Regions from separate parts of the Homo sapiens genome. Here regions 1 and 3 are each linked to region 2. The links come from fine-mapping of genetic effects on gene expression. A gene starts in region 2. Each other region holds a variant in brackets. All regions are shown on one strand. Distances are from middle to middle. Region 1 holds the start of LOC105374339 (a long non-coding RNA gene). Region 2 holds the start of CPLX1 (complexin 1). Region 3 overlaps PCGF3 (polycomb group ring finger 3).

What was found.
Region 1: its variant is fine-mapped to the expression of CPLX1 in lung (TOPMed, PIP 0.94).
Region 3: its variant is fine-mapped to the expression of CPLX1 in whole blood (INTERVAL, PIP above 0.99).

Annotation. Positions count from the first base shown.
Region 1 is chr4:781,860-790,020 of GRCh38, forward strand. It overlaps CPLX1 (complexin 1), which reads right to left. Exons shown (of 4, transcript NM_006651.4): 4 at 3,098-4,839. The coding sequence ends at 4,642. It overlaps LOC105374339 (a long non-coding RNA gene), which reads left to right and starts at 5,915. Exons shown (of 4, transcript XR_925032.4): 1 at 5,915-6,007; 2 at 6,104-7,498. RefSeq lists enhancers at 1-539, 540-1,257, 3,252-4,123, 6,096-6,597, 6,598-7,097 and 1 more and a silencer at 1-278. The variant T/C (reference allele first, on the strand shown) is at 3,963.
Region 2 is chr4:821,300-829,636 of GRCh38, forward strand. CPLX1 (complexin 1) reads right to left here and starts at 4,830. Exons shown (of 4, transcript NM_006651.4): 1 at 4,747-4,830; 2 at 3,193-3,302. The coding sequence starts at 3,223. RefSeq lists a silencer at 4,800-4,849.
Region 3 is chr4:751,095-759,094 of GRCh38, forward strand. All of the region lies in intron 8 of PCGF3 (polycomb group ring finger 3), which reads left to right. LOC124900163 (chloride intracellular channel protein 6-like) reads right to left here. Exons shown (of 2, transcript XM_047416474.1): 2 at 1-8,000. The coding sequence ends at 7,070. Among named protein-coding and RNA genes, the nearest start is that of PCGF3-AS1, 27 kb to the right of the region's middle. The variant C/T (reference allele first, on the strand shown) is at 4,033.

The sequences.
Region 1 (8,161 bases), 40 kb before region 2:
GGGCTCTGATTGGTCAGGCCTCCACACGTGAGCCTCTAGGAGCCAATCATGTCGGCCCACCTAGCATGCGCTGATTGGCTCAGGCTGGCCAGGGGCGGGCGCGGTCCTTCCACGGCCCGGTCCCCGCTCCCTTCCCCAGGCCCGGAGGCCCCGCCCGAGCGGCTCCGCTGGGGGCGGTTCTGCTGGAGAGGACGGATCTGCTGGGGAGATGGATATCCTGGAGGGGCGGATCTACTCGGGGGGCGGGTCTGCTGGGAAGGCCGGATCTGCTGTGAGGGGCGGGTCTTCTGGAGGGGCCGATCTGCTGAGGGGGCCGGATCTGCTGCCTGACAGGGCTTCCTGGCCTGGGGAGGAGGCCGTGTCTGGAGCTTGAAAGCCGGCCCCGCTGTGTTCAAGATACAGTCAAACGTTCAGAAGGAGGAGACTCCGGGGGCAGGGTGGTGCCCAGCCAGTGCATGGGGCCAGGGCCACGCTGGTGGCACCCAGGCAGCGCTGCCTCCTGGCTCTCGAATGGCTGTTCTCTGCCCAGAATGCTCTCCCACGGGACACGCGCCTCCCTCCGGGTCTGTGCACGTCACTCTGACAGAGAGGCCCCCTGACCACTCATGAAATAGTAACCCTAACCATTGCTCTCTGCTCCCTGTCCTGCTTGATTTTCCTCCAGGGCAAACACCGCCACTTCCATGTTTATCATCTGTCCTCCATCACTAGGAAAACCAGTTCCAGGAGGGAGGGACTAGTATTCCCAGCCCCTAGAACAGAGCAGCGCATATCACAGGGGCTCAGTAAACATCTGGGGAGGAGTGCCATTCCCAGGAGGCCTCAGACCCCGTCACCTGAGATGAGAGCTGGATCCCGGAGAAGCTCAGGTCTGACCCAGCATTCATTGCTGTAGGAAGGGCTCGTCTAGACTCCAAGGGAGCCGGGTGCGGTGGCTCACGCCTGAAATCCCAGCACTTCGGAAGGCCGAGGCGGGCGGATCACCAGGTCAGGAGATCCAGACCATCCTGGCTAACACGGTGAAACCCCGTCTCTACTAAAAATACAAAAAATTAGCCGGGCGTGGTGGCGGGTGCCTGTAGTCCCAGCTACTCGGGAGGCTGAGGCAGGAGAATGGTGTGAACTTGGGAGCGGAGCTTGCAGTGAGCCGAGATCGCACCACTGCACTCCATCCTGGGGGACAGAGAGAGACTCTGTCTCAAAAAAAAAAGACTCCAAGGGAAAGCTGCCTGGGTCGTGACCTGGCACGTCCAAGTCGCTGCTTAGGCTTGCAAGGGGGTCCAGACCAGGCTGTGGATGGGAAATGGGAGGCTGGGGGAGGATGGAGGCTGAGCAGTGGCTGGATGTTGGGGTGCCCTGTTGAGGGGCAGCTGGCAGCAGCCACGGACACAGGGGTGGGTGCAAAGACACTGAGTTTCTGTTCCAGGAGGAAGGGGGGCCAGCTGGCAGAGGAGAGATCACCCTGGGCAATTTGGTGGTGCCTGGGGTGCACACTTCCCCAGAGGCAGCAGGAGGAGGAGCTGGATACACCCTTCCCTGGGCTTGGAGGAGAGCACGTTCCCTCCCAGCTCCCACCTGGCATCCAGGAGGGCCCGGCCTGGGGTCAGGGCACATGGGGCCCTCCTGCCCTGGGACTGGGCAGCTCCCTGGGGCATTCCCAGCCAGCAGCATCAGGAAGGTTACAGGAGACCCAGACATGCTGCTCCCTAGAGAGGGCTCCTGACAAAGATTTTTTGTGTGGTCAAACTTTAGTTAACTTCCTGAATCTTCTGGTAGGCCCATTGGCCCACTTCCTTGTAAAATGCAGTTTTAGCAAAGAATCTGGCTAAGTCAGTTTAGCAACAAACCTTCATCCTGGAGATCTGATTGGGGTCCTCATGCTTCACCACCCTATGGGTCTGTCTGATTGCCCTGCCTGTCTCCAGCTAGAATCCAGTTAGATGGGTTTCATCAGAATCCCCCAACCCCTGATGTTCCTCAGTCATTTTCCATCCACTGAGCCCACCCTGCTCCTTGGCACCCATGGCAAGCCCTGTTGCATGGTCCCTGTACCTGTAGTGCTGGTCCTGAATAAAGCCTTCCTCACTCAGCTGTAACAAGTGTCACGGGACCATCTTTTCTTTTCTTTTTTCTTTTTTTTTTTTTGAGAGGGAGTCTCGCTCTGTCGCCCAGGCTGGAGTGCAGTGGTGTCATCTCGGCTCACTGCAACCTCTGACTCCCAGGTTCAAGGCGATTCTCCTGCCTCAGCCTCCCGAGTAGCTAGGACTACAGTTGCTTGCCACCTCACCCAGCTTTTTTTTTTTTTTTTTTGTAGTTTTAGTATTAATGGGGTTTCACCTTGTTAGCCAGAATAGTCTCCATCTCCTGACCTCGTGATCCGCTCACCTCGTCCTCCCAAAGTGCTGGGATGACAGGCGTGAGCCACCGCGCCCGGCCTGAACCACCGCACCTGGCCTGAACCACCGCACCTGGCCAGAATCATCTTTTAACAGCTTCCAAACTTGGAGGTCAAACAAGGACTTTCTGGGGAAGCAAGTGGCAGGCAGCAGCTAGGCGTGGGCTGCGCATCCAGCGGATTGAGTGTGGGCGGGACCGCCAGCAACCAGGCAGAGGGGCTGTTCTCTGGGTTGGGGTCAGGAACCTCTTCTGGCCTCAGCCCAGGTTGGCAGACATTTCCCTGCAGGGATCCGGGTCCAGGACTCAGGAGGAGGGACAGTCCCACGGGGGTGCTGGGGGGCAGGAATTCCTGGGTGGGCCGAGGTAAGGGCAGCACAGGGTGACCTGGGGCCCTGGGCCCGGTGGAGCTGAGGAGAGGGACAGGCCTGTGGTCGGGGGTCCTAGGTGGGAGGGAGAGCAGAGGGCAGATGCTTTGCGGGTGGAAGAACCACCCTGGGGGGCGGGAGACCCTGAAGGCGCAGGTTTGTGTTTAGATGGAGGTTGCGCTGGCTGGACGGCCTAGGGAAAATGGGTCTGACTGGATGGAGCTGAGTGAGAATGGTGGGAGGCCCTGCAGCCGCCGTGGAGAGAACATGCGCGGGGGAAAGCCCCGGTCCTCCGGCTGGCGAAATGGACCTCTGGAAGGAATGGCCACACGGTGTGAAATCACTGGTGTTTATTGGCTGTGATTCCATCCGGAGAGAACACACGCAGGGGCCCCGACATGCAGGAGGAGGCGCAGGCGCAGGACAGACGGACAGAGGACACCACGGTCTAAGCTAAGCTCGCGGCCCGGGGCGCCATGCGCTGGGAACGGGGTGCGCAGGTTCTACGAGAGGACGCCCTGTCTGCTCAGAGCTGGCTTTGTAAGGTGTGAAAACAGGAGTTTTTAAAAGACACGACCCGGGAGAAGTCAGTGAGAGGGCACAGGGCGAGCAGGACGGACAGCGACGTCCCCGCGGGCCGCGTCGCTGGGGCGCAGAGGGGCGCGGTGGTCTCTGCCCGGAGGGGCGTCGGTCGTTAGTATTGCAGTCTAACGTTATGGCTTCTCTAAAGCTATGTAAGGTCATGAAGGTCAATGCCAAGCCACGCCCTGGCCCGAAACACGTGGAGACTTGATGCATTTTTGATGTGGACGAAAGGGCCCGGGGGCGAGGCGGCGCCTGTCAAGATAAAACTCATTAAATGCAAAGACCTCATTTACCTGAGATTCAACAAATTGTGATGCAAATTAAACATGAATGGAGGAGAAACAGGGGCTCGGATGCCGCCCCGCAGGGCCACCAGGTGGATTAGGCCACACACGCGCCAGCTGCGCGCAGGGAACCCCGCAGGCCCCACCCGAGGAGCTGCCCACGGAGGAGGTGCTGGGCAGGGGCGCAGGGTCTCCAGCGTCCGGTGCCTCGGGCCTCTGCGGCTCCTGTGGAGGGTGCAGTGTTCAATGGCCGAGGGCAGGGGTCCTCCCCAGGGAGAAGCAGCAGCCGCGTGGGCGGAGAGGCTAGGAGGCCGGGCGGGGGGCGAGGACT[T/C]GGGAAGAGCGGGGTGACGGGGGTGGGGGCTGGGCGTCCCCCAAACCTATTGCTTTGTTTCCTTTAGTTTAGAAGTGAACACGGCCGTGGCGTTCGTAAGAAGCAAAACCTTCCAGAGAGGAGAGGAAAGGACGCGGACAGAGACGGATGGACAGGGGCGCGAGGGGGCCAGGCCGGGGGGCGGAGAGCGGCCGCGTGCGGACGCAAATACTCACGGCGGAGCGATCCGAACCCCGGAGTCCGCGTGCAGGAGGGGGACCCAGGCCCCGCCGCCCTCGCCCCGCCCGCAGCCCCCCGTCTGCTATGGCTGTGCTCCTGAGTGCGGGCCCGACAGGCGCCCACCGCCGCGAACGCGCGCACAGGGGTGGTCGCGGGGCTGCCCTTCGGCGGCCCTGGCCTCGGGCGCTGCTGGGTGGGCGGTAAACAGCAAGAGAAAGGGGCGTCCCAGGCGATGGGGCTCCAGCCACCCGCGGGCAGAGGAGCACGGGGCGGACTGGGGGGGTCCTGGGGGCGCGCGCCCCTTGCCGGGTGAGGGAGGCGGCGGGCGCGGGCAGGGCGGGCCTGGGGCTATGGCTTATATCGGCGTGGGGGCTGCGCTCTGCTCGTCCCTCAGGGGCCTCCGCGGAGGATCTGTAGGGGGAGGGGCGGGGGCTCCGCGGGGCCGCTGTCCCGCGCGCGGCTACTTCTTGAGCATGTCCTGCAGCGGCCCGGGCAGGTACTTGATGACGGTGTCCAGGATGCTCTCGTCCTCCTCCTCCACCTCGTCCCCGCAGCCCGGCGGGATGGCCTTCTTGGGCCGCGTCAAGCTCCCCTCGGAGTTGGCCTCCATGGCGGCCTGGGCCTCGGCCTCGCGCTCCTCCTTCTTCTTGATGCCGTACTGCGGGGGAGGCGGGGGTCAGGGCGGGGGTCCCGGCGGCTCCCGGGCGGGCCGCAGCCTCCCTGCGCCAGGGACTGGCCCAGGAACCCCCGAAGGCGTGGGTGCGGCCCCCTACCCCACCAGGCACACAAGGACCCCAGAAGGAGAAGAGACCCCACCCCGGGGGGTCCCTGGAGGAATGGGAAGCCCCCACGGAGAATGGGGGCCAGGAGCTGACATGGGGGGGAGCAGGGAGGGGGAGGCTCCCATCTTCCTTGAGAGGAGAGAGGGCTGTGGCCCCACCTCTGGCTCCAAACCCAGCCCAGCCCCTGGCATCCTGCCTTCCAGGAAGCCTCCGGCCCGGGGCAGGGAGGGGTGGGCAGGATGCTGCGTGGCAGAGGTGGGGAGAAACAGTCAACCCGCAGCTGACCCTCCTGCCCAGTGCCTGGTCCACGACCTGCATTCACACTCCCGGGCCTGGCCAAGGCTGCCTGGATGCGGCCGCGGCCCCAGCAGGGCCACTCCCTGGCAGGCCGCTGCAGCTCCGTGGGCAGCCGGCAGAGGGTCCTGGGCTGCGGTCACTTCCAGGCACTGGGTGTCCTGGAATCCCGCCTAGTCGTGCCCTCAGCCAGTATGCCTGGGCCTCACCGACCCCCTGCCCACCCGCGTTTCTCATCTCCCGTGAGTGCGTCTGCCCTCCGTAGTAGCTGAATATTGTCCCCCTCAAATTCATATTGCCTGGAGCTTCAAAGGTGATCTCATTCGGAAACAGGTCTTTGTTGATCTCATAATGGTAAGGATGGGGACGAGGCCATCCTGGATTTGAGGGGCCTCAAGTCCAGTGAGAGTGTCCTTGTAAGAGACAGAAAGGACAGACACCCGGATGGGGGCGGGCATACGAAAGCGGAGGAGGTCGCGAGTGGTCAAGAAACACCAGGGATTCGGGGCCGCCAGACGCAGGAAGGGGCAGGGAAGGGCCCTCCCCCAGAGCCTCCAGAGGGAGTGTGGGATTTTGTTCTTCTGCCCTCCAGGCCTCTAAGTTTTTGTCAGGCCCCGGGGTTTTGGTTTCTAGATCAATACGCCTCCCCACGCCACACTCCTCCAGCCCTCCCGTGAGCCACCAGCCCAGGAAGCCTGTGGTCATGGTCAGGCCACGGAACTACGGAACAGCCTCCTGCTGCCCAGGAAGGTGGGAACCAGTGGGGTTGGGCTGGCCTGGAAGGATTGGGGGCCTGGTGTTGTACGGAGCTGGACTTCCATCCCCTGAACAGGACCCCCGGGCCAGGTCCAAGGTCCTGGATCTGAGATTACAGGTGCTCTGGAGTAGTGAAGGCGTCAGCAGCTGCGTCCAGGAGAAAACTTAGGAGGGGAGTGGGCACCAGCACTCTACAGGACGGAGGAGCACACCGCGGGATCACCAGCCACAGGGAGGGGCCTTTCTGCCCAGGAGGAGCCCCTCCCCTGCCATCTCCTGCTCCTGTCTCAGCAGCCCCTCCCCATAGAAGCAGTTGGTTCTGCTCCTGGTGCTGGGCACCCCCTGGATCTCCAAGGAGGCCCCTCCTTCCTCCCAAATGGAGGGGGGGCTGCCTGTGTGCTCCCCAACCCCACCGAGGGCAGTCTCGGCACCTCTCCCCTCCCCTAGGGCTGCAGGTGGCTCTGGGTGTGGGGGGCCAGGGCCACCTTCAGTGAGATGGAAAGGAGGGCGCCACGTTCCCAGCCGCCTGTGGCCAGACCACCACCTGGCCACTGAGGAGAGAGGGGCCGTGGGCTCGCCCTAGTCCTCAGCAGCCCCTGCGCACTCTTGACAGAGCCGGGACTCCAGGGGTCTCCTCAGTGAAACGAAGAGCACAGGGTAGGAACGTTCTCCGCACAACAGGGGCGACACCCAGAGGGCCCTGCAGGCCCAGAACAAAGCCCTGACCCTGTGGGGCAGCAAGAGCAGATTGGTTCTCGTCCTAGCCATCCACAGCGGGAAGGGCAGCAGCTCCAGGCACGGAAGTGGAGGGAGCATGTGCTCTTCGTCCTGTGGGGCCAGGGGTGTGCTGGGGAGAGCGATGCCACTGGAAGCTAGGTCCGGCCAGAGAGCCTCCCTCCAGCCAGGGGTGTGGGGGTCTGTGCATGTGGCGGCAACATGTGTATCCAGCCCAGGAGGCTGTGCTGCCCACAGCAAAAGCACTCAGGAACATGTGTGTGCTCAGAGGAGCATGCCTGTAACGGCGGAACATGAGTTGTGTGAGCAAAGGAACCTCCCAGGTCAGGGGAGTGACCCTTGGGGCTTGTGGGACCCTGTCTGCAAACGGTGTGGGATCCTTCCTTCTGGGCCCAGGAAGGAGACCCCAGGCCCTGCCACCAGGTTGTGGGACACTCGGAGCTTGGCCTGAAGTGCCAGTTGCTGCAGTGAGGCTCCAGGTCATTCTGAGGCTGAGGTCACGCCGGACTTGGCCTGAGGGCCAGGGTCACTCTGCCGGGAAAACAGGCTCCGGGGCTGGGCTGCACACCAGAGCCTGGCTTCCACGTGGTCTGGCTGAGACCCAGTTCTGAGGCGTCTGCTCCAGAGACAAACGCCCAGGCACACCCAGCCCCAGGCCCACCGTGATGCTGGGCAGCAGCTCTCCAGGAAGTAACACCTGAGGATGGGAGTGGCTGCTGGGGGCGCCCAGGAGGCCCTGACACGTCTGAGGTGAGACCCTGAACCCTGAAAACACGGTATTCGTGAGAAAAAAGGGCAGTGGGTGCTAATCAATGCTGAGAACCAACAATAGGAATGATAGGACCAAACAGCCAGCATTCAGCAACCAGGTGGACACCTCCTAGCCGCTGTGGGAGCTGCGGGGGGTAGGGGGATGCAATGTATTGAGGGAGCCTAGTGGGCCCTCAGAAGGCCCGTGCAGGAAGGCCCAGGTGTGGGCTGCCCAACATGGGTGGCTGGAAGCTTATGCAGGACAAGGGCGGGTCAGTGCGCGGAGCACAGCGGGGCAGTCTCCCTCCTGCTCCCTGGGCCCGGGCCTGTCCAGATGGCTGCCTGACAGGAGGTGCAGGCGCGCTGCTCCTCTGGGAACTGCCTAGGGGGCTGGACACTCCAAAAGGACCCAGTCCCCATCTGCACAGAGGCCTTGGACAGGGCAGCTCAGCGTCTCTTCTCTAACCAACCCCCAAGATGCCGGGGGGTGCCACGGCCCAGAGGAGGCTGGAGGCAGCAGGTGTTCTGATCAGGTGGCCACGCCTGAGGGCAGGGTTCCCCCACCCCAACAGGTGGCCACGCCTGAAGGCAGGGTTCCCCTACCCCAACAGGTGGCCACGCCTGAAGGCAGGGTTCCCCCACCCCAACAGGTGGCCACGCCTG
Region 2 (8,337 bases):
TGGGCTCTGTCGCTGGGGCAGTCAGAGGCTCTCCTGAGTGTCCGGCTGCCTCCCACTCTGCACCCCAGCCTCTCCGCACATGCATCCTCCAAGCCGTGTCCCACCTGAAGCCCCGGCCCGCCTGCCCCACACATTCCCGAGGACCTGAGCGTGTTTAAACAGGGCGTGTGTCACATCAAGGCGGAGGATGGGAGAGCGGGTGGCTGCTCGCTTCTGCCACATTTAGCCCCATGAGGGTCTGCAGTGACCACGGCACCCACACGTGCCACGTTCCTCCACGCTGTCCACAGAGCTCCCAGGCCGTGTTTGCAACTTTCTGGCCTGAGGAAACCAGTTTCTTTAAATTACTCCCTTGAGGACCCTGGATCCGGACCCACGTGTTGTGGGGGGAGGCCCGGCCCCAGTTCAAGGCCACTTTTGCTGCAGAGGAGCCTCCCGCTCCCCCACGAGCGATCACCCCGGCAGCCACCATGCTCCCTTCCCTTGGTGGCCCCAACAGGGGCCCCTCCTTGAGACCCAGCGTTGGGTCAGATGAGCAGGCCCTGGGCCACTCACTCCTCAGCAAGACTCACACCTGCGGCCCAGCCTGCCGCGGACAGCCCCCGAATGGTCTTGATTTAACCAGGCCTGTCCCCCTGCCCAGAGCCCTGGGCAGGTCCTCACCTCTTCCTCCTCTCTGCTGCACCCTCTGACGGGCGTGCACGTGTGCATGTGCCATGCTGCCTGCGCTCCTGGCCCTGACTCCTCTTAGCAGTTCATTTCTAATGCGTCTCTCTCCCCACTGTCTCTCCCTCTGTCTCTGTCTCTCCCTCTGTCTCTGTCTCTCCCTCTCACCACTGTCTCTCCCTCTGTTTCTGATTCTCCGTCTCTCCCCATCTCTGTCTCTCCCTCTGTCTCTGTCTCCATCTCTATCTCTCTAACTCTCTCTGTCTCTCTCTCTCCTTCTGCCTCCACCTCTCCCTCTGCCTCTCTCTGCCCTCTTCCTTTGTCTGTCTGTCTCTCTGTATCCCTCTGTCTCTCCCTCTGCTCCCATCTCTCCCTGTCTCTGTTTCTCCCTGTCTCTGTCTCCCTCTGTCTCTGTGTCTCCCTCTATCTCTGTCTCCGTCTCTCCCTCTTTCTCTCTCTCCCCTCTGCCTCTGTCTCTGACGTGCCGTCTCTGTTTTCACCTGTCTGTCCCTGTGCGTGCTGAATAACACATTCTTGTCTTTTTCTCTGTCTGTTTCTGGGCTGTCATTTTCTTTCTCCAGCTCCCCCTCCCCGACCCTGTTTCTGGGTTCGCCTTTCTTTGAACGGCTTCCTGGGTGCCTCCTGCTCCCTCTCCTGCCAGCTTCTTTGTGTCCGGGGCTTGGTCTGTTTCTCAATAGTTCTCTTGGGGTCTCTGCCAAGCTCTGTCGTGCTGTCTGGAGGTTCCCCCATTTCCCATCTCTGTCTTGCTCTGTCTCACTCACACGCATCCTGAGACAGCAACAATGAGGCTCGCCGGGTGAGGGACAGAGGCGCAGAGGCAGAAAACAAGGTCTCGACTGGAAGCCCCCCACCAGCTCCCGCCCTCAGCAGCTCTGGCTCCGAGCCTCAACGTGCTCTGCAAAGCCAATGTGGGGTGCTCTGGGAAGCACTCAGCGTGGAGCCCCCCCAGGGTCTGCTGGCTGCCCCCGCTCAGCTCCACCACGCTGAGCGACGCCTGCCCGGTTGCTGCTGCTGGAGAAACTTTGGGCTGCCATGAAACAAAAAGGGAATTCAGGCTGGTAATTACCCAGCTAATTTCAGTCATGTAGACAGCCAAATAAGATATTTCAGTTTCTTACAAGCCCACCTCAGGGCCTGAATTAGCCAACTAATTAATTATCCGTAACAGCCTGGGACTCCCTGGGTGGAACGTGCGTCCCTCCCAGCGCAGATGCAGGCTTGTCCCTGAATCACAGCCCGGTGACGCAGCCATTATAATTAGACTCAACCTGACTCTTACCCTTGACCACGAAATCTCAGGGATGTGGCCCCAGGACAGGCTCAATATCTTTTCATTTAATTTGTGTTGAGTGGAAGCACAGCCACCCTCCGGGAGACAGCCAGGCAGGCAGCTCCTGCCCTGGGGGAAGCGGCGCCTGCCCTCTGTACACCCTTGTCCCTGGCCCCTCGAACCCGGCCAGCTCCCCCACTGCAGAAATGCTCCCAGGAGGCCTGACTCACTCCAAGGTGTGAATGGCATCAGGTGAGGGTGCTCCCCCGTGGAGGCCACCCAAGCAAGACGTCTCTAGTGGTAGAATCGGGCACCGGCCACAGGTTCCCCTCACAGGAGTTCTGGGCACTGGTGCTGGGGGAACACAGGATGGACGGCTCTGGGCAAAACTGAGACTCGCCACGACAGCCCCGAGGCCTGAGTTGACCCATCAGCTCTGCCGGGACACGTCTGTACCAGCATGGCCCAGGCCCTGCCCACCTCCTGGTCTAGGAACCCAGCCACTGCTCTTGACATGGTCTCTGGCCACAATGACAGCCTTGGGTCAAGTGGGGACGAGGTTCCTTTCAAATAGCAGACAGCAGGTTGGAAGGGGGCCTGGCCCCACCCCAGTACACACAAAAAAGGCTGCACGTCCCGCCTGGGAGGCAGTCGAGACACACAAGCTGTTTCGGGCCTTTTCCTTCGCTCCCGTAACCAGCAAGCCCTGGTCCCTGAGGATGGCGCTGCCTCACCCAAGTGAAACCCACAGGGTCCTCGCCAGATGCACAGGCCAGCTCTGTCCCCACGCCTGTCCCTGAGGCTGCCACCTGCATCCTGCTCTCCCACCGCTTGGCTCTCCTCATCTGGAAGGAAGCCCCCTTGGGGGCTGCCCAGCCTGGCCAGTTAGAATTGGCCCTGTAAAGCCTACGCCAGAGTGTGCACCCTCCCCCAGGACGTGCATCAGCATGGTCCATGGGCTCTGCCCCGACCACAGCAGTGGGGCAGAGTGAGCTTACAGGGCAGCCCCTGTCCCGCCAGGAACACCAGTTCTGGCTCGGGGCCTCGAAAAGGGCCGGGCTGGGGGCGCTGCTGGGCACGGTCCTTGCTCCTCTGCCCCAGGCTCCTGTGCAGGGCTGCGTGGGTGGCCGTGTGGCTGCAGGGGCGCTGCTGCGGTGGGCCAGATGAGGAGCAGCTGCTGTGGTGGTCTCTCCATGTCCCCTCAGCCCCTCCCCACCCCACCTCCCGCTTCCTACCTCCTAGAGCCTGCTTCATCACAAACTCCATGGCGATTGCTCTGCTTCCACAGTGGCTCCTCCAGGGGTCAGAACTCACACGCAAGTATGGCCGGGAGCGAGTGTTCTTCCTGGGGGAGAGTGAAGTGGTCACAGGTCACCCTAAGCAGGCCCCTGCCTGGCCTTCCCCAGAGACCATCATTCCTTACCCGCAATACCTTGTGGGCTGGACCCTCCCCCACCTGGAGCGGCTGCCTGGGAAGTCCTTCGTGAGGGGCTTCTGTCCCCACACCCAAACCAGGACCCCAGAGGACCTGAAAATGGTCTCCCCAGCTCCTGGGGTGTCTGAAGCCTCTGCAGGGAGGGCTGCTGATGGCTTAGGGGGCATCGCTCAGAGGCGCCTGGCGCCAGGCTGCGGAAGCAGGGGCGGGGCCCAGGGGGCGTTTGAAGGTGACTGCTCCGCTCTGCAGCTCAGTGTCTGGAGCGGCGCCTCCGCGGTGGTCCCGAGCCCAGGGCCGTGGAGAAGGGTTGGGGGTGGGTCTTTGAGCGGGTACCCTTCAGGGCGGGCTCCTGTGGCTTCTGACCAGGGAGGCTTGGGTGACCCTATCCCTGACGGCACTGCAGTCAGTGTGCCCCCCACATGGCCCGCGTAGAAGAGATCGGGGTTGGGGAGAAACTTCAGGGGGCTCAGCCTTCAGGAAACACGTGGGGACGGGGACAGAGCACCCCCGCCCCGGGGGCGTGCATGGGGTGGGGTGGGGCGCTCTGGTCCCCTCTTGGGAAGCCGCTTTCTGAAATCACAGCAGCCGCAGTGAGCCCCCCGGTTTTGCGGGGTCTCTCCTATCGGGGAACCCCAGGTCCCTGGAGAGACACTGTTTGACGGTTCACCCCTCGCCCTCCGCAGAGGAAGGAGACTCGCGCGGGGACTGGGAGGGCGGCGGGCGGGGAGCGCCCCTCGGAGGCTTTGCCGCAGCGCCGATTCTCCTCCAAACTTCTCCCCTGGCTCCCGCGGCGCGGGGAAGGAGGGCACGGCCGGGCCCCGCAGACCCGCAGGGCTCCGGCCCCGCCGCACCCGCACCCCTCGGCTTTGCGGGCGGGCGAGCGGCCCTCAGGCGGGAGCGCGCCAGGAGAGGAAAGAAAGAGGGCGAGGGAGGAGAGGGGGAGCCTCGAGACAGGAAGAAGCGAGGAGGAGGCCGGGCGCGGGCCGGGACCGCGGGGGCCGCTTCAGCACCGCGGCAGTGGACAGCGCCCGCCCCGGACCCCGCGCGCGCGGAGCCCGGGAGAGAAACGGGGGCTGCGGGGAGAAGCCGGGGTCGGGGGGAGAAACGGGGGCCGGAGGGAGAGGCCGGAGCCGGGGGGAGAAGCCGGAGCCGGGGAGGAGAGACCCGGGGAGCGGAGGCCGGGGGGAGGAGCTGGGCGAAGCCGGGGCCGCGGGGAGAAGGGGGGCCGGGAAGGAGAAACCGGGGCCGGCGGGAGAAGCGGGGAGAAGCGGGGGCCGGGGAGGAGACGCCGGGGCCGGGAGGGGAGACCCGGGGAGCGGAGGCCGGGCGCGCGCTGCGCTCGGGGCGCGGTTACCTTCCCGGGGCGCGGGCGGTCAGCGGCGGGGCGCGCTCGGGCCGGCTGGGTCCATGTGGCGCCCGGTGAGCTGCGGCGGCGGCTGAAGGGCACCGCGAGGAGGGCGCGTCACTCGCAGGCGCTCCCCGCCCCCCGCCCGCGTCCGAGCGTGACGAGCACGGGGAGGGGAGCGCCGAGGGGCGGGGCCGCGGGCGCCGGGCGGGGGCGGGGGTGGACCCGGGGGCGGGGGCGGAGGCGGACCCGGGGGCGGGGGGCGGGGGGTGGACCCGGGGCGGGGGCGGGGGGTGGACCCGGGGGCGGGGGCGGGGGGCGGGGGCGGGGGGCGGACCCGGGGCGGGGGCGGGGGGTGGACCCGGGGCGGGGGCGGGGGTGGACCCGGGGGCGGGGGCGGGGGGCGGGGGCGGGGGCGGGGGGTGGACCCGGGGCGGGGGCGGGGGTGGACCCGGGGGCGGGGGCGGGGGTGGACCCGAGTGACGCGCCCCCGCCTCCCTCCAACCCGGCCCGGGCTCGACCTTCCCCCGGCGGGCGCCTGCGACCCCCGCCCGCCCCTGATCTGGGCGCCCCCGGCTCTGCCCCCCCGCCCCCAGCCCGACGGTGCGGGCCTGCTCCCTACAGGGTCCGCGCGGGGCCGGTGGGTGCAAAACCCTCGGGCGGAGAAGTCGCTGCCTCCCGAGCGGAGGGGCCAGGGGTTGGGAGTCGCTGCCGCCCCCATTCTCCGGTGACCGTGTCCCTGAGCGCCGCCCGCCGCCCCGACCCCTCTGCCCCGACCTCCCCGTATCGCAGGGCGGGAGAAGGGGGCCCCCAGACCCCTGAAAACCCACGCAAGCCCCTCGCAGCCAGAGACCCGCAGGCCGGCCCGGGCTCACTTTCGGTGTAACGGAGTCGCTGTTTCCTTTACCGGGACGAAGGCCAGAGACCCCACCGCTCCCTCCCCTGGCCCCCGGGATTTCCTCTGCAGCGGACGCGGCACTGCGGGAGAGCGGGGTCGCCGCAAGGTCGGCCCTGCGGTTCGCGCTGTGCAGTGTCGGGAGCCAGGCGGCGGGAGGGATGGGGCGCACCGCGACCCTAGAGCTGCCCTGTGCTCCTGGCGGGGTGGGGGTGGGGAGGGGGGAGGGGGGCCGCTGCCGGTGGCCGCCGCACTAACTTGTCACTGTCCCCTCCCTGCTGAGTCCTGGGGACTCCCCTGGCGCAGGGAAGATGCGGCCCCTCCCCCGCCCTCAGCCCCATCCCCTCCGGTGCCCCGTGTTTAGCCTGAGCTCAGGAGGACTCAGAGGCCTGGACTCCCAGCCTTGGCCCCAGCGCCTCTGCCCCCGTCCCCACTCTTCTGCTGACTTGGCAGGGGACCCTTCGCAGAGGAAGGGAGCGCTGGGGGAGAGGGAAGGGTGAAGGCACCAGGGCCAAGCCCATGGGGGCTCCCTGAGACAGCCATGAGGGTCCCGTGGGCCTGGGGGTTCACAGGCAACCTCCCAGAGGGGGACCCATGCCCTAGGATTGGGGTCTCTTCAGCCTCCCTGGCTGGAAGCCATGGGCACCCCCAGCACCGTCCCTTCCTCTCTCCCGGGATCTGAGCCAAGTGGGCTCAGAACGTTGGGCCCAGGGACAGGAGGCAGGACACATGCCTGGGGGCCCGGCCTGAGCCCCAGCCTGCTCTGCTCCATCTGCTCCTCTAGTCTCCTCAGGACCTGGGAGGGGACAGCAAGGGTGAGATGTTCGGGTCCAAGAAAGAGGTCACTTCTCGGCCCTGGTGCTTTCTCTCTCCATCCCTAACTGGGTGGATAACCCAACAGCTAACCCGGACAGTAACCCCAGAGAGGACCCCAGGGGTGACCCCCTGAGCCCAGAGCCAGGCTCATGACTGACCCTGCCACCTCCACAAGCTGCATGCAAGGGATATGCTGGTGCCTTTGGGACAGTCTGCACAGGAGTGCAGGGAGGTGCCCGTTCTTCCGAGCAGAAGCACTGGACTCCTAGGCTGACCCCTCCCCGTTCTACAACCCAGGCCAGCCTGAGCTCCAAGCACACCTGGAGCTGGGGCCTGGGGCACAGAGGACAGAGACCCTCTGCCAGCCCTCACGTTCTGCCCTGTCTTCCTCTGCCTCTCTCTCTGTCTCTTTCTCCGTCGCTGTATCTCTCTGTCACTGTGTCTTTCTGCCCGTCTCTCTGTCTCTATCTTTCTGTCTCTGTCTTTCTCTGTCACTGTATCTGTCTCTGTGTCTTTTTGTCTCTCTGTCTCTTTCTATCTCTGTCTCTGTCTTTCTGTCTTTTCTTTCTCTGTCGCTGTATCTCTCTGTCTCTGTGTCTGTCTCTGTCTCTCTGTGTCCGTCTCTCTCTGTCTCTGCCTGTCCCTGTTGTTACTTGTTACATCCAGCCACACATGCAGTGACTGCTTCTCAGCTCTCACACTTGTCTAGGCCCTAACCTGGGGGTGGGGGGGCCCAGCCACAACTTGGGGGAAATAGACAAGGTTGGTGACAGCCCCAGGTCAGAGTGACAAGTGGCCTAGGGAAGGGAAAGTGGGCATCTGCTGGAGGAGTTGAGGGTGGTGCCCACTCAGGGTGTGTGAGCTGGGCCAGGGGAAGGGAAAGTGGGCATCTGCTGGAGGGCTTCAGGGTGGTGCCCACTCAGGGTGTGTGAGCCAGGCCAGGGCTGCCCAGCTGGGATGGGAGTCACAGGCTGCTGGCCAGGAGCCACCCAGGCTCCGTTCCAGTGGCAGAAGGTGGTGACGCGGCAAAAGGCCTCTGCCAACCCCCACGGGCCACTTGGCCACACCAGGGCAGGTGCGGTTGGCCCTTCGAGTGCCCAGAGGAGGCCCTGAGCCCTGGAGAAGAAGCCCCGCAGACCTCCAGCCGGCTGGAAAGGGGCAGGAGCTGAGTGAGAAAGGGGCCAGCAGGTTGAAGGCCAGGTTGAAGATCCAGGCAGGGAAAACATTTTGCAGGCCGGGGAAGAGTTGGAGGCCACCCCGTCCAGGCGGATGTTGGGAGAAGGAGGAGGTGGGGTGTGGAGCAAGTCCGGGAGGAGCAGGATGGAGCTCCAACGAGGGCTCCCCCAGAGGTCAGCTTGGAGAAGTGTGAGTGCTTGGCTGGGCCGAGCCCTGGCTGTGGGGCCTGTGCCAGCCGGTTGGACATGGATGGTACCCCCGGCCCAGCCAGCCCTCTGCTCCTCAGATGCTCCATCCCCAGCCCCAGTGAGGCCAGGGACCCCAGGAGCACAAAGCAGGACTGTGTGAGGACCATGTGGCACTGGGTTTGAGACCCTGCGGGGTCACTCCAGACAGCAGGGAAAGGAGGCAGCTGCCCTGCTGCAACCTCCAGCTCTAGCCTCTCTGGAAGCCCCTGCCAAGGCCTCCACTGCCACCCTGCTCCCATCTTCTGGGTCCCATCTGCCCATAGCCCTCCTGGGTGCCAGGCATCCTCCTTGCCTTGGGCCAGGAAAGGGTCTGGGAAGCACTGTCAGGGTTTCCTGGGGTTGGCCTTCAGTCCTGGCGTGGGGTGTGGCCAGGGGGCCATGTCCCCCATGGGCCCAGCAGGAGGGCAGCGCTCTGCCACACCGCATGTGTGGATCCGGCCCACAGCACCCACCCAGAACCTTCAA
Region 3 (8,000 bases), 70 kb before region 2:
TTCTTTCTCTGCTCTAATGGTTTGGGAATTTTGCATTCTCTTTCTGTTCTTCTTGTGGCTGCCCTTAAACTTGGATTCCGTGTCCGTTTGTGGGATTATCCGCGTCTATAACTTCGTGATGAGTTCCTGATCTCCGTCTTCCAAAACTTGGGAAGTCATCCGAGGGTTTGTTCCAGATTGTTTTGGGTAATTTTAAAATTTTATTTCACACTAATTTTATTCTAGGAATCGCTTCTTCATCTTACTGAAGTTTTGATGCGACGTTATAGTTATTTAGGCTTAACGGGAGGTTGCATGGGTTTTGTGGCCGTTTCTGGTGTCTTCCTGGTGTGTTTGGATTTGTGCTTCGCCACGTCCGCACGTCACTTCTGAGCCCAGTGCGGTGGCCCCTGAGCTCCTGCCGGTCACGGGCTGTGTGTTGTCCCCCTCACACCAGAGACAGTCGTTTCTTCTCTTAACTCTTAAGCCCTCCTCAGTCACTCGGATGAACTGATTAAATTCTGTGCTTTTAATACTAAGCATTAAAAAAAAAAAAACATATGAGGGAAGCACCTGCCACCCAGGCCCATGTTTCTGCTCTCAGCCTTGTGCCCTCCCCCGGTGGCCCCTCCAAAGGGCATGAAGCTGTGGATGCTGTGCCTGTGCCTGGAGGCTCTGGCCCTCCCACCCCTGGCTGGGCTCCAGCTCTAGGTTTGTTCAGCAGCCAACTCAGAGCAGCCGAGGCTCAGGGTGGCATCAGCCGGCCGCGCTGGCTTCACAGCCGACCTCTTCTCCATCATCTGACGGGCGCAGGCCCCCTCGCTGCCACCCCCACTGGTGGGCACTCAGCCTCAAGGCACAGGCCTCCTGGGACTGGTGGCTCCTCTGAATCTTCCTGAGAGAGGCAAGTTTAGTCATCGCTGAGCAACGCAAAAGCGTGTCGGGTTTATTTACTCACAACGATGTCTTCTAAACCAAAAATACTTGACGGGGCCTTTCTTTCTGTTTTCCGAGGGAGGGGATGGGGATCCTCCTGGAAGATGGTGCCCCCTGCACAGGTGAATGGCGTTTCCCACACTTGACCTTGGGAGTTTGGAAACTGGCGAAGCCGCCTCTTCCACTGCCCTTGCTGTTCCCTCCTGAGGTCCCTGGTCGTTCTTTCTCCTCTCAGTTCTGCCTCCCGCAGTCCCTGCATCTGCCACCTTCTCTGTGTGACCCCATTCCTTTCACAGCCAGAAGCCTCTTGGTTAGCCTCAGGTGACTCATTTGCTTCACAGCTGTTTTTTGCTCTCATCTTTTTTTAAGTATAAGCCATCGGTCTGTTTAATTCCAGAACTCTCCTTTCTGGAGCCTGACTTCTTTGGGAGCAGCCGGCGGGTTTCATGGATGCACGGCCACAGCTGTTCCGCTCTTTTCCCCCAGCTGCTGCTTCCAGAGCCTGGCTTTGCGTGGGCATCCTGAGGCCTCCGGGGACCGGGCGGGCAAGGGTGGGGTTTGTGGATAAGGAGTGAGGTGGGGGACGGGCCTGCTGCCCTGAGCTGGGGTCCTGAGTGTCCGCTGGGACTCGGGGGTGGGGGGCCATGCAGTCTTGGGGATACAGGGGCTCTACATGGACTTCGACCCCTGTGTGTGCAGCCTCCTCCGGTTCCAGGCCCCCGGGGTCTTCCCACCAGACTGAGGCTGGGCAGACGGGAGGGGCCTGCGCGTGGCTGTGACCCCGCCAGGGCAACCCCAGAGATTCCCGCCGCCTTCAGGCCCCTGTCAGATCCAAACACTCGGCCTCCGCCCATCTTCGTTTTCAGAGCCTCGGGATTGCCAGTGCCCTCCTGGTGCCCGTCTGTCCAGGGCTCTTCTGAACACGTCCCTGATGAAACTCTTCTCTCACTTCAGTAGGCTTTGTCCTCTGTCGAACCACAAAGGTTTGTGTTTGAGATTAGCTCCATTACCTGGATAGTGGGAGACAGATCCCGGCCCTCACTGGAGGCCCCTCTGGGTGCTGATGGCTCACACACCTGAGCTGCCAGGTGGCCCAGGAGAGGGCATGGGCACCTTCTCTCCCAGAGCTGACAAGCCCCGGAGCAAATGGCAAGGAAGTTAGAACAGAACTTTAGAGCTTTTTTATTTTTCTGAGACAGGATCTTACTTTCTTGCCTAGGCTGGAGTATAGTGGTGCAATCTCAGCTCCCTGCAGCCTCGACCTCTTGGGCTCAAGTGCTTCTCCCAACTCAGCCTCCCGAGTAGGGACCACAGGTGTGAGCCACTGTACCTGGCCTAGAACTTAATGTTTAAGAAGACTCTTGGCCGGGTGCGGTGGCTCACGCCCGTAATCCCAGCATATTGGGAGGCCGAGGCAGGCGGATCACAAGGTCAGGAGATCAAGACCATCCTGGCTAGCACAGTGAAACCCCATCTCTACTAAAAATACAAAAAATTAGCTGGGCGTGGTCGTGGGCACCTGTACTCGGAGGCTGAGGCAGGATAATGGCGTAAACCCGGGAGGCAGAGCTTGCAGTGAGCCGAGATCACGCCACTGCACTCCAGCCTGGGCGACAGAGCGAGAGTCCGGTCTCAAAAAAAAAAAAAAGAAGACTGGACCAGGCACGGTGGCTCACGCCTGTAATCCCAGTACTTTGGGAGGCTGAGGCGGGCAGATTGCCTAAGCTCAGGAGTGCGAGACCAGCCTGGGCAACAAGGTGAAACCCCGTCTCTACTAAAATACAAAAAATTAGCCGGGCATGGTGGTGGGTGCCTGTAATCCCAGCTACTCGGAGGCTGAGGCATGAGAATCGCTTGAACTTGCAGTGAGCTGAGATCGAGGCACTGCACTCCAGCCTGGGTAACAAGAGCGAGACTCTGACCTTCTACGAACCCTACATTCAGCTTCCCTTGGAGCGAGCAGCTGCCCAGTGGACTTCAGGGGCGTTCTGGGTCCTGGCAGGAGTCGCCTCCGTCTTTGGTGGTCCTGGCACCCACAGACCCAGTGGGACTGCAGGGCTGGTGTGGTCTCTGCTCATCTTCGCTCGTGCAGAGTTAGGAAACCCTTACCGGGCCTGTTGACTTGGTGGGTGTGATGTCCCAGCACCAGAAACAGGGGAAATGGCTCCTATACCCTGAGCAGGCTGGGGGTTCTGGTGTGGGGTCCCTGCCGCCCTCCAGAGGCTCCAATGGCTCTTGTGTCTGGAGCTGGAAATGTGGTTTGTTTTCACTCCTCCGAGTTGTGCCTCCCTGGCCCACTGGCTCCTGTCCGCACCCTCGGGCACGCGCTGTGCTCTTGGGACTTCACACCCGAGAGCCGGTCACCTGCTCCTGCTGCACGCCTGCTGGAAGTGGGCTCTGCCTGCAAGGGCCTCGCAGCCGGCGTGGTGAGGGTTGGCTGGTGGGGAGCGGAGAGCCCACCCATCCAGGCCAGAGCCCCTGGAGGTAGAAGGGGCGGAGGGTAGAAAGAGCCTCTCCTGGACTGTAGAGGTGAGGCAGGAGGTAGTGAGCTGGGACCTGGTGCCAGGCTGCCCCACGTGCCGTGGGTGGTGAGTCCGGGGCAGAGTGAACGGGTAAGGCTGGAGGTGAGGTTGGGGACCTTGGGGGCCTGTGGCGAGAACTTGCTGTTCACCCAGAGGAGGGAGATGAGGCAGTTGGGATGTGAGATCGGGGTGTGCTGTGGGATGCAGCCTGGCGTGGCTTTATCCCCAGAGGGTTGCCACTTAGCGCAGCTGCTCTGCAGTGAGCTGCCTGCACGGCCAGGGTGGCCATGCGGAGACCAGGCAGGCGTCTGAGCCAGAGGCCCAGGCAGGTGGCGGTGCGGGTGCAGCACTGGGTTTGGGGCATATTTAAAAGGGAGGGAGCCTGCAGGATTCGCTGGTGATCCAGATGCAGATGGCAGATCTTGGGCTCTTTTTCACTTCCAGGTGGACAAGGAGCTCAGTGTTCCCAGGCAGGCCGATGTGTAGCCATAGACAGCGACAGGTCTTTCTGCAGTGCCCTCTTTACAATCAGAGTTGCATTTCGAGGTGTGTAACGTACCCGCTTGATGGTGACTGCTGTGTGCACACAGGCCCG[C/T]GTGGTGTCGCAGAGCACACGGCGTTGTGTGCGTGGCACGTGTTGTTACGCTGTGACTTTTTTACACTTAATTTCCCATCTAATACTGGAGACTTTTAGGTGGTGACCAGCCCATCACTCTTCTAAGACATTGCACTTGTCCCCCTGGGCAGGTGTGTTCCACGGTATCTGTGTTATTTCTGATTCCAGTCTCCTGTGTGTGGGGTGTCCAGCGACTCATCGCACGTCTCTGGGCTCCTCTGCGTGTGAGTTGCTTACTTGTTCTTTGCCCATCTCTGTCCTGGGAAGACTGACTTTTCCTTATGTGAGCTGCAGGGCTACCTCCTCCCTCGCCGCCCCACGCTCACTGCAGGGATCGTCTTTCCTTCTGCGGCTGTCGGCTTTCTTCGACCTATCATCATCCACAGTTTTAAAATTTGACATAATTAAATGTATCGGTATTTTCTTCTGAATCTTAAAAATGTTTCCCCATTCTAAGGTCATAAATACATTCTCTTACATTGTCTTGTAAAATATTTTAAAGGTTTGCTTTTTAGTTGGGTTGTAAGCCCCTGCAGTTGACCTTGTGTGTAGAATGGACAAGGTGGAGTTCAACTTTGCCAAGTTTCCACACTCTCAGGTCCCCCTGGGCTCTCTGCTCTGTTCCGCTGGTCTCTTGTCTCCCATTGTGCCAAAACAACAAGGAACTTACTGAATTGCAATGATTTATTTTACCATTAAGTTGTGGTCTTCTGGGAGAGTACATACCCCTCCTCATTTTTCTTCTTCAGAATTGTCCTTTTTTTTTTTTTTTTTTTTTTTTTTTTGGAGATGGAGTTTCCCTCTTGCCCAGGCTGGAGTGCAAGGCCTGATCTTGGCTCACCGCAACCTCCACCTCCCGGGTTCAAGCGATTCTTCTGTCTCAGCCTTACAGAGTAGCTGGGATTATAGGCACATGCCACCATACCCAGCTAATTTTTTGTATTTTTAGTAGAGACGGGGTTTCTCCATGTTGATCAGGCTGGTCTTGAACTCTTAACCTCAGGTGATTCACCCGCCTCAGCCTCCCAAAATGCTGGGATTACAGACGTGAGCCACCGCCGCACTTGGCTTTTTTTTTTTTGAGATGTAGTCTTATACTCTGTCGCCCAGGCTGGAGTGTGGGGGTGCAATCTCGGCTCACTGCAACCTCTACCTCCCTGGTTGAAGTGAGTCTCCCACCTCCGCCTCCTGAGTAGCTGGGATTACAGGCACGCACCACCATGCCCAGCTAATTTTTGTATTTTTATTACAGACGGGGTTTCACTATGTTGGCCCGTCTGGCCTCGAACTCCTGACCTCAAATGATCCACCCGCCTCAGCCTCCCAAAGTGCTGGGATTACAGGTGTAAGCCACTGCACCCGGCTCTTTTCTAAACTCTAGAGTTGAACATTCCTTTAGTTTCCAGCTTCATAATTTGGTTCTTATTAAAATAATTCTAGAATTTTCATGTTTTTTTTAACCAGCTTTCTAAATTGTGTTACATGCACATAAAATATGCCATTTTAACCATTTTCAGGTGTGTGGTTCAGTGGCCTTGGGTACAGACCCAGTGTTACACAGCCACCACCACCACCATCATCTCCAGAGCCTTTTTATCTTCCCAAACTGAAGCTCTGCCCCCATTAAACACTCACTCCCCACCCCGCTCCCCCAGCAGGGTTAGATCGCAGAGGGGCCTGCCGGGGGCTCTGAGGTGATGGAAACCATCTGAGACTGCCATGGCGATGATCGAGAAAGTCTGTGAATTTACGGAAAATTATTGCATTATATACATAAAAGAGGTGTGTGTAAACTGTGCCATAATAAAGCCTAAAAATTAGAAGCATGCTTGTAACTTAGTGTATTTAAATAGGTAATTCGTTCAGTCCTGAGGTTAGTATTATTGAAAAGGTTTAATTTTGTTCTCATCTCTGCCGCTGTCTGTAGTGACCTATAGAGAACCACTGTGATCACCTCCTGTATGTATGCAAATCTGAGCAAACGTAAACATATTTTCTTCTTGTTTTCCTTCCACAATCCCCCCCACTCCCACCCCCGCCCATGTGTGTCTGCGTTTTCCCGCAGGTGCATGCAGGCCCGCGTTCATCTGTGCAGCCCTTCCTGCTGCCCTGCGGGCCCCATGCACTGCAGACCCCGCTGCCTCAGACCTGTGCCTGCGTGGCTGGCACACCTGTTCCCTGAGTCGGAGACGGCGGCTGCCTGTTGAGGGCAGGGTGCGTCCGCTGCTTATAGAGACGTGAAGCCCACCATGGCCATTCTGTTGGCGTGCGTTTGTCACCAGCTGTGTTCCCGTATAGAAACGTTTCTCGTCTTTGGGGGGCTTCTTCCTCATTAAGCTCTATTTCTTAAAGTCCCATGACATACTAATCTAGCTATGCCAGCTTTCTGTTGGTGAATACTTGTGTGATATTTCTGTTCTTAAAATGTCTTAAATGTGACACTGTTTACAACGTAGAGCTAGGTTTTTTAAAAAAATCAAACTTTTTTAGCTGGCACGTTACCTTACACATTCCACGATTTTCCATGGAGGATGTGAGTTGGTTCCTGCTTTATTTTTTTATTTTGCTCTTTTCGTCAGTTTTTTCCTAATGCTTCCTTCCTCCCTGTTGTCTAGTGAATTAGTAACTTTCTTTAATCTCTTTCTTTCTTCCTCTGGTTTGCAAGGTATAAGCTCTACTTCTGTTATACTAGTGGTTACAAAATGTATAAACTATTTACATTTTTAGAAATCCAAAGTTGGCCCGGCGCGGTGGCTCACGCCTGTAATCCTAGCACTTTGGGAAGCCGAGGTGGGCAGATCACGAGGTCAGGAGATCAAGACCATTCTGGCCAACTTGGTGAAACCCCGTCTCTACTAAAATACAAAAAAATTAGCCGGGCATGATGGTGCGCGCCTGTAGTCCCAGCTACTCGGGAGGCTGAGGCAGCGGAATCGCTTGAACCCAGGAGGCGGAGGTTGCAGTGAGCCGAGATCGTGCCACGGCATCCAGCCTGGCTACAGAGGGAGACTCTGTCTCAAAAAAAAAAAAAAAAAAAAAAAAAAAGTCCAAAGTCACTGTAAGTCTGTGCCCCTCCCTGCACAAGCACCCCCACCGCGGCTCTCACCGGGCACCCCCTTTCTCCCTGCTTCTCACTTCTTCCGCCAAACTCCAGGTCTTTCTCCCCGCGCGGCCCCTCTCCCGAGTTCTTCTCGCTCCGGACTCCAGGTCTTTCTCCCCTCGAGGCCCCTCTCCGGAGTTCTTCTCCTTCCGGACTCCGGGTCTTTCTCCCCGCGCGGCCCCTCTCCCGAGTTCTTCTCCTTCCGGACTCCGGGTCTTTCTTCCCGTGCGGCCCCTCTCCCGAGCTCTTCTCGCTCCGGACTCTGGGTCTTTCTCCCCACGCGGCCCCTCTCCCGAGTTCTCCCTCCAGACTCCGGGTCTTTCCCCGCACGGCCCCTCCCCCGAGTTCTTCTCCATCCCGACTCCAGTTCTTTCTCCCCGCGCGGCCCCTCTCCCGAGTTCTTCTCCTTCCGGACTCCAGGTCTTTCTCCCCGCGCGGCCCCTCTCCCGAGTTCTTCTCCTTCCGGACTCCGGGTCTTTCTCCCCTCGCGGCCCCTCTCCCGAGCTCTTCTTGCTCCGGACTCCGGGTCTTTCTCCCCGCGCGGCCCCTCTCCCGAGCTCTTCTTGCTCCGGACTCCGGGTCTTTCTCCCCGCGCGGCCCCTCTCCCGAGTTCTTCTCCTTCCGGACTCCGGGTCTTTCTCCCCGCGCGGCCCCTCTCCCGAGTTGTTCTCCTTCCGGACTCCGGGTCTTTCTCCCCGCGCGGCCCCTCTCCCGAGCTCTTCTCGCTCCGGACTCCGGGTCTTTCTCCCCGCGCGGCCCCTCTCCCGAGTTGTTCTCCTTCCGGACTCCGGGTCTTTCTCCCCGCGCGGCCCCTCTCCCGAGTTGTTCTCCTTCCGGACTCCGGGTC